Homo sapiens: one gene and its partner. The protein of the gene in region 2 interacts with the protein of the main gene of each other region in a pairwise test. Each region holds a gene or a part of one and is shown on either strand. Other genes may lie near its edges. The genes, in order: BBS4 and SPIRE1.

What was found.
Region 1: the proteins of SPIRE1 (region 2) and BBS4 interact in a two-hybrid assay, tested with the Homo sapiens proteins (one large-scale study listed by BioGRID and IntAct).

What each region holds. Positions count from the first base shown.
Region 1 is NC_000015.10:72,689,030-72,692,857, reverse strand, and holds part of BBS4 (BBSome complex member BBS4), read right to left. Parts: intron 1-3,828.
Region 2 is NC_000018.10:12,445,762-12,449,137, forward strand, and holds the end of SPIRE1 (protein spire homolog 1), read right to left. Parts: 3' UTR 751-3,376; downstream 1-750.

The DNA of each region.
Region 1 (3,828 bases), on a different chromosome or scaffold from region 2:
GGGAGGCTGAGGCAGGAGGATCACACGAGCCTAGAAATTTGAGAACAGCTTGGGCAAAACAGCGAGACTCTGCCTCTATAAAAAAAACTTTAGAAATTAGCCAGGCATAGTGGCAGGTGCCCTTAGTCCTAGCTACTCAGAAGGCTGAGGTGGGAGGATCTCTTAAGCCCAGGAAGCGGAGTTGCAGCAAGCCATGATTGGACCACTGCACTCCAGCCTGAGGAACAGGCTCAAAACAAACAAACAGCCAGGTGTGGTGGCTCACACCTCTAATCCCAGCACTTCGGTAGGCTGAGGCAGGCCGATTGCTTGAGTTCAGGAGTTTAAGACCAGCCTGGGTAACATGACGAAACCCCGCCTCTACAGAATATACAAAAATTAGCCAAGTGTGGCCTGCGCCTGTGGTCTCAGCTACTCGGGAGGCTGAGGTGGAAGGATCACTTGAGCCCAGGAGGCAGAGGTTGCAGTGAGCCAAGATCACGCCACTGCACTCCAGCCTGGGTGACAGAGCAAGACTCTGTCTCAAAAAAAAAAAAAAAAAAAAAAAAAAAAATTGCAATGTAAATTATCACATTAAGACATAATTTCATATCCACCATGACTGGTGGCAGAAGCATAAATTGTTACAACCACCATATAGTTTCCTGTAAGTAATAAAGTTACTCCATTACCTAGCAATCTATTTCTAGGTATACCTTAGAGAAACTCTTAGATATTGCATCAGAAGACCTACATAATAATGCTCAGGGCTAGGACTAAAGTGAGGCATGTGAAGAACCTAGGGTATAAACCTTAAGAAGGTACTTACTCTTACTCCATAAAATGTGAACCCTAAGCACCTCACTTACCTTTCCTTAGTCTTGGCCATATTTATAGCAGCTTTTTTTTTTTTTTTTTTTGAGACGAAGTCTCGCTCTGCCAAGCTGAAGTGCAGTGGCACAATCTCGGCTCACTGCAACCTCCGCCTCCTGGGTTCAAGTGATTCTCCCGCCTCAGCCTCCCGAGTAGCAGGGACTACAGGCGCGCAGCACCGCATCCTGCTAATTTTTGTATTTTTAGTAGAGACGGAGTTGCACCATGTTGGCCAGGATGATCTCGATCTCTTGACCTCATGATCCGCAGCCTCGGCCTCCCAAAGTGCTAGGATTACAGGCGTAAGCCACTGCACCCAGCAGCAGCATTGTTTTTAATAACTAAAAACCAGAAATAATCCCGATCTCCATCTAGTGGAATGGATAAGTTAATTGACATACTTTACTACAATAAGATACTATACAGTGTTGAAATAATGAATAAACTGAAGGTTAATAACAAATTTTAAAAACTAATATATTAAGGATATATATAAACATATATGGTAAAACTATAAAAAGTACAAAATATTAATATAAAATTGAAGAAACACTACATCTGATGTGGAGGAAGGAAAATGCAGTAGGAGAGAGGCATTTAGGAGGTTTCAAAGTTATTAATAACCCATTTCCTAACCTGGGCAGTAGGAACACAAGTTTCCATTATATTATCCTTTAAAGCACACATACGACATTTTAAGCACTCTTTTACAGGTAGGATATATTTCACAACAACAAAAATTAATCCTCAAAATAAAAGAGAATACTTATGTGAGGCAGGCCAATTGCTTGAGTTCAGGAGTTTAAGACCAGCCTGGGCAACATGGCAAAACCCCGCCTCTACAAAATATACAAAAATTAGCCAAGCGTGGCCTGCACCTGTGGTCCCAGCTACTCGGGAGGTTGAGGTGGAAGGATCACTTGAGCCCAAATGAGGGGCTCATTTGGTTAATGATCTTGATTTAAAAATTCACAAAAATTTATAAAGACATTTCACCAAAGAGATACGGGTGGAAAATAAACATATAAAAAATCTTCAATATCATTATTCATGAAGGAAATACAAATTAAAACCACCATACACCATCACTACCCATCCACTACAACAGCTAAATAAAAACAAACTGACAAACCAAGTGTTGACAGGGATGTGGAAAAATCACAACCCTCATGCATTGCTCATGGAAATGTTAACTCGTATATAGCCTGCAGAAGTTAGGCAGATTTGTTTCTGTTTTTTTAAACAAATACTTAAACAATATAACCCAGCAATTCCATTGACACAGGAACCCTTCTGGAGTGATGGACATGTTTTAAAAGCAGCCTCTGATGACAGCTGTGCAACTATATAAATTTACTAAAACTGATCAAACTTTGTACTTAAATTGAGTAAATTTTATGGTACGTGTATTATACCTCAACAAAACTGTTTTTTAAATGTTAACTCAATTTTTTAAAATCTAACTAGAATTTCTTAACTTTGGGGAATATACTACTAAAGAATGTTAAAGACTCAAAAAGCACCTTCAAAGGTCAGCAACCCTTCTTTCTGCACAAAGCAGAATTATTTTTTTGATGAGTCTTTTACTCAAGACTTTCCAGAACATTTTGAGATGGAAAGGATTCTATTAGCCCACTCAATCTCATTCATAGGATTTATATAGAACAAATTATTTTATTCTGTTATTTCTTCATTTTTATATAGTTTTATGATCATTTATTCATCCAACAAATATTCATGGAGCACCTGATACATAGGCACTATATCTGAGCCAGATCAACTAGTGTACTAATTTCTGTTTTCTGCTCTTATCAGTTTAATCCTTCAATTTACAGGATGACATATTTATCCAAATACATCAAATAATGGGAATCAGGGCATTATAAAAAAAATTTATAGGCTGGGTACAGTGGCTCGCCTGTAATCCCAGCACTTTGGGAGGCTGAGTCGGGCGGATCACAAGGTCAGGAGATTGAAACCATCCTGGCTAACACGGTGAAACCCCGTCTCTACTAAAAATACAAAAAATTAGCTGGGCGTGGTGGCAGGCGCCTGTAGTCCCAGCTACTCCGGAGGCTCAGGCTGGAGAATGGCGTGAACCCGGGAGGCGGAGGTTGCAGTGAGCCGAGATCGCGCCACTGCGCTCCAGCCTGGGCGACAGAGCAAGACTCCGTCTCAAAATAAATAAATAAATAAATAAATAAATAAATAAATAAATAAATAAAAAGATTTATAAGCACAAATCATGAAAGCCAGAGTTAGTTGCTCATTCATTTTTTGTTTTTTTCAGACAAAGTCTCACTCTGCCCCTGCTGGAGTCCAGTGGCATGATCATGGCTCACTGGAGCCTCAACTTCCCCCAGGCTCAGATGATCCTCCCCAGTAGCTGGGAAGACAGGCGCGTGCCACCACGTCTGGCTAATTTTTGTGTTTTTTGTAGAAATGGGGCTCCAACATGTTGCCCAGACTGGTCTCAAACCTCTGGACTCAAGTTATCCTCTCACCTCAGTTTCCACAAGTCCTGGCATTACAGGCATGAGCCACCAAGTACAGCCTGTTTGCTCATTTTTTAAGAATTCTAAACTATACTGAAAATACAAATATTAGTCCTCAGTTTTCCTTCTAAGGAACTGGTAGCAATCCGTAAGTAATTTTGGTAGCATACTAGAATTTCTGCGTCCCACACTGGGCTAGTTTTACTCAGTTTTGATGGGGTGTCTTCTGGCCTCAAGGCCTTGACTGTAGCCTTCTTAGATTTTTAGCTATACATTTCTTCAAAAATTCTGTGAGTTTTGAGTCTTTTCCTTTTCTCTCCTCCATATCCATATATCCTTATCTACGGATCTATATGTTTTCCTTTGTGTTATGAAATTAAGATCACATAATATACCCCACTTCACATCTACCTTTTATTTAAATGTACACCATGGAAGTCCCTCCAAGTCAATTAGTCGTAACATTCTCTTTTTTTTTTTT
Region 2 (3,376 bases):
GGGAATGCCAATATGACTTATTGCTTATTGAGCTGTGCAGGCTTTTCTGCTTTATCAATTACGCCTCCAGGAAGCTGTGAAAGAAAGCTTCATCCATCTCCCACAGGATTTGTCTCCATATTTGTGACACATAATAAAATGTTATGTACTCTTTATGTAATTTTACTCTCCTACTCATGGCTGCTTATCACTTGTGACAACATGTTAATTTTTCCAGTGCGGTCCTTGTAGACTGTTTTTCTTTTTCTTTTTTTTTTTTTTTTGAGGCGGAGTCTTGCTCTGTCACCCAGGCTGGAGTACAGTGGCACAATCTCAGCTCACTGCAATCTCCACCTGCCGGGTTCAAGCGATTCTTGTGCCTTGCCTCCCCAGTAGCTGGGATTACAGGAGCACACCACCACGCCTGGCTAATTTCTGTATTTTTAGTAGAGATGGGGTTTCACTATGTTGGCCACCATGTACAAAAATACAAAAATTAGCTGGGCATGGTGGCGGGCACTTGTAATCCCAGGTACTTGGGAGGCTGAGGCACGAGAATCGCTTGAACTCCTGACCTCAGGTGATCCGTCTGCCTCAGCCTCCCAAAGTGCTGGGATTACAGGCGTGAACCACCATGCCCGGCCTAGACTGTATTTCTTCAAAGATCACAGGCTGCTTATAAAAGTACCCTGCCTTCCCAATTGAGGTGATTTCTGACAGCTAATTACCAAAAGACATCACCGTCTTACGATAGCAACTCAACACAGAAAGTCTGATGGAAAGCCATTTTATTTTTCTCTAAATTTTAAAATAGAAGACTTTAATGGAAAACATTTAGTACCATCATGTCACCCTGAATGCCAGCAATACCTCGACTTTTACACACGCAGGAAGCCTAGTAAAAGCCCCGTCAGTAGTACACATTTCTCTATGGTCCTTCAACAGTTTTGCATATACAAAATTTTCTGCTATTTTGCTTTAGCAAACAGCAATAAACTTTTGTGTTTCCTATATGACACCTAATATCCAGTCCTACAGTAATATAGTTAGAAAAATAAAAGGCTTAAAAATTTCATAGTACGAGTTCATGGTGCTAATAACAGAATCTCTTTAAACATAAGATCATTTTAAGCCTCTTACATAACCACCTTCTGGTTTCATTTGAAATCCTTAAGAATTAAAATCTAGTAAGATTGTTAAATCAACGTACGTCAATCATTCATTTTCACTTGCCTTGGGAGAGTTAATTCCCACTGTCCACTGAATGAATGCCTTTCAAATATTAATAAATATATTACAGTATTTACAAGCATTCTTATACACTCCGACACTGACAGGGAGTTAAGCCATGGAGAGGGAAGCACAGGTTTCCCAATAGTGTGACTTCATGACGTATGGGACAAAAGGAACCGGTGCTCAGGCCTGGAGGGAGCTGAGATGAGAGCAGGGATGATGGTTCAGATACGCACACATGCTCTAAGACACATCAGACTCTAGCTGAGACCAGCCAGACATTTCTTTTGTTGTTGGATTAGAAGTAAAACTGAACAAGAAACCAGGACACGGAAGGAAGAACTGGAAGCTATGCCTAAAGTCAGACCAGGCTAAGGATTTTAAAACCAAGCTCCACAAGCTCTTAGTGAATTACCCTGTGGAAACTATGTAGCTGACGTGAAGTGTGGAGGGGGGTGGTAGAAAGGGGGGTTAAATGTAAGACTTTGTTTTGGCAACAAAAAATGATAGTAATTTGATTTCTACAACTTTAACTGTGCCATGTGCCCTTTCTTACCCCACTTTCTGCAGATTGTTTCATATGAACGTACCCTCCACGTGACCTCTTTAATGCACTTGGCAAACTCCGTTAATGCTGTTGAAGAATGTATGTTCTGTGCTGTGGTAAGAGGTGATCGTAATGCCCAAATCATCCAATACACTATCATAAAGTGAAGTGAAAGACATGTACTAGATGTTTGCTTTGTGAATGTGAATGAAAGTCTTATTTTGGGGGTGTAGTTTCTTATGTTTTAATAAAAACAGTAGTCATTATTTTAAAAAGCACATTCTCCTAGGTGCATATTTATATACATATACAAATACCATTTCCTTCCCCCTTGTGCCCTTCTGGGTAGTCATTTTAAAAACTCAAGCCTGGGGTCATCAAAAGGGGTAGATTTATACTCCCACCTAACTGTCTGGAGTATAGAGTTCAGATAGTCTCTTAGGAAGTTTTATAAATGAGATTCACCCAGTACAATTCTGAAAGCTCTTAAACAGGAGTCTTTAAAATAATGTAAACACTTAAGTAATCAATAAGGGTTCTCTGGTGGCCCACTTTTACATGCAAATACAGACCAACTGTTAACATGCATTATTTTAGTCAACTGGTAAAGTTTATTTCATAAGTATAAGTAATTTTAAGCCTTTTACTAAACTGTAAATTTCAATCCATTAAAAACTACTACCGGAGCAGTTTTGAGGTATTACTGTTAATTTAGTATAGAAATGTTACTGTATTTTGATGTGGTATGAAATGCAGCCGCCATGCCTTTCATGAAACGGTGCTATCGTGGTGCTGACTACAGACATGTCCTATGGCTTTCAGGAAATTATTGTGCATGTGCATTAACAGATTTTCCAAACATTAATGACAATTTGATTGGTTAGTCATTTGTAAGCATACCAAAATAATACAGTATAGCCCACGTATGAGCCAAACACACTGAGACATTTGAGGCATACAATGCTACCCTCCAGTCTACTTTCGTCAGAAACCAAACCTACTCACTCAAATCATTTACAAGGAAAACTAGTGCAGAAAGCACCCCAAAAATGTTGCCTGTCAGCAGGTTAATTTTCTTCTAACTTTAAAAGAAGTAGATATTTTTTCTTTTAAAATTCATTTATAAAAATAAATTTTAGTTTGAGACCCTAGGTACCAAATTGTGGCTTAATTTACTCAAGATGGATGTACTACAAAGTTATGAAAAATGTAGCTGAAAACCCATGAGCTCCAGCTCATTTCTGCAGCGTGGCCAACAGCTGCCACTGTACACTGTCACAACCCTTCTCATAGGTAACCAAAATACGCTCAACGTCTTGACAAACTTTTAGCCTTCCTTTGTCCTGAAACTCCCACACAACTTTAATTCTTAGACCTCCATTATAAAACTATTAGTAACCATAATACATTCAAGATAGAGAATGAAGACCTGTCATCCACTCAGGAGACACTGAACCAGGGCACTGGGACAACACGGCCACTCAGGGGAAATAGTCACCCTTGTGGGTGTACAGCTCTTCAGATGTTTTGCACTAGAATGCAGGCAAAAAGTCCCTTATGTAATTTTTATCTCCAAGCAACAACATTTAAAAATCAGTTGAAGAGTGTCAGCAGGTG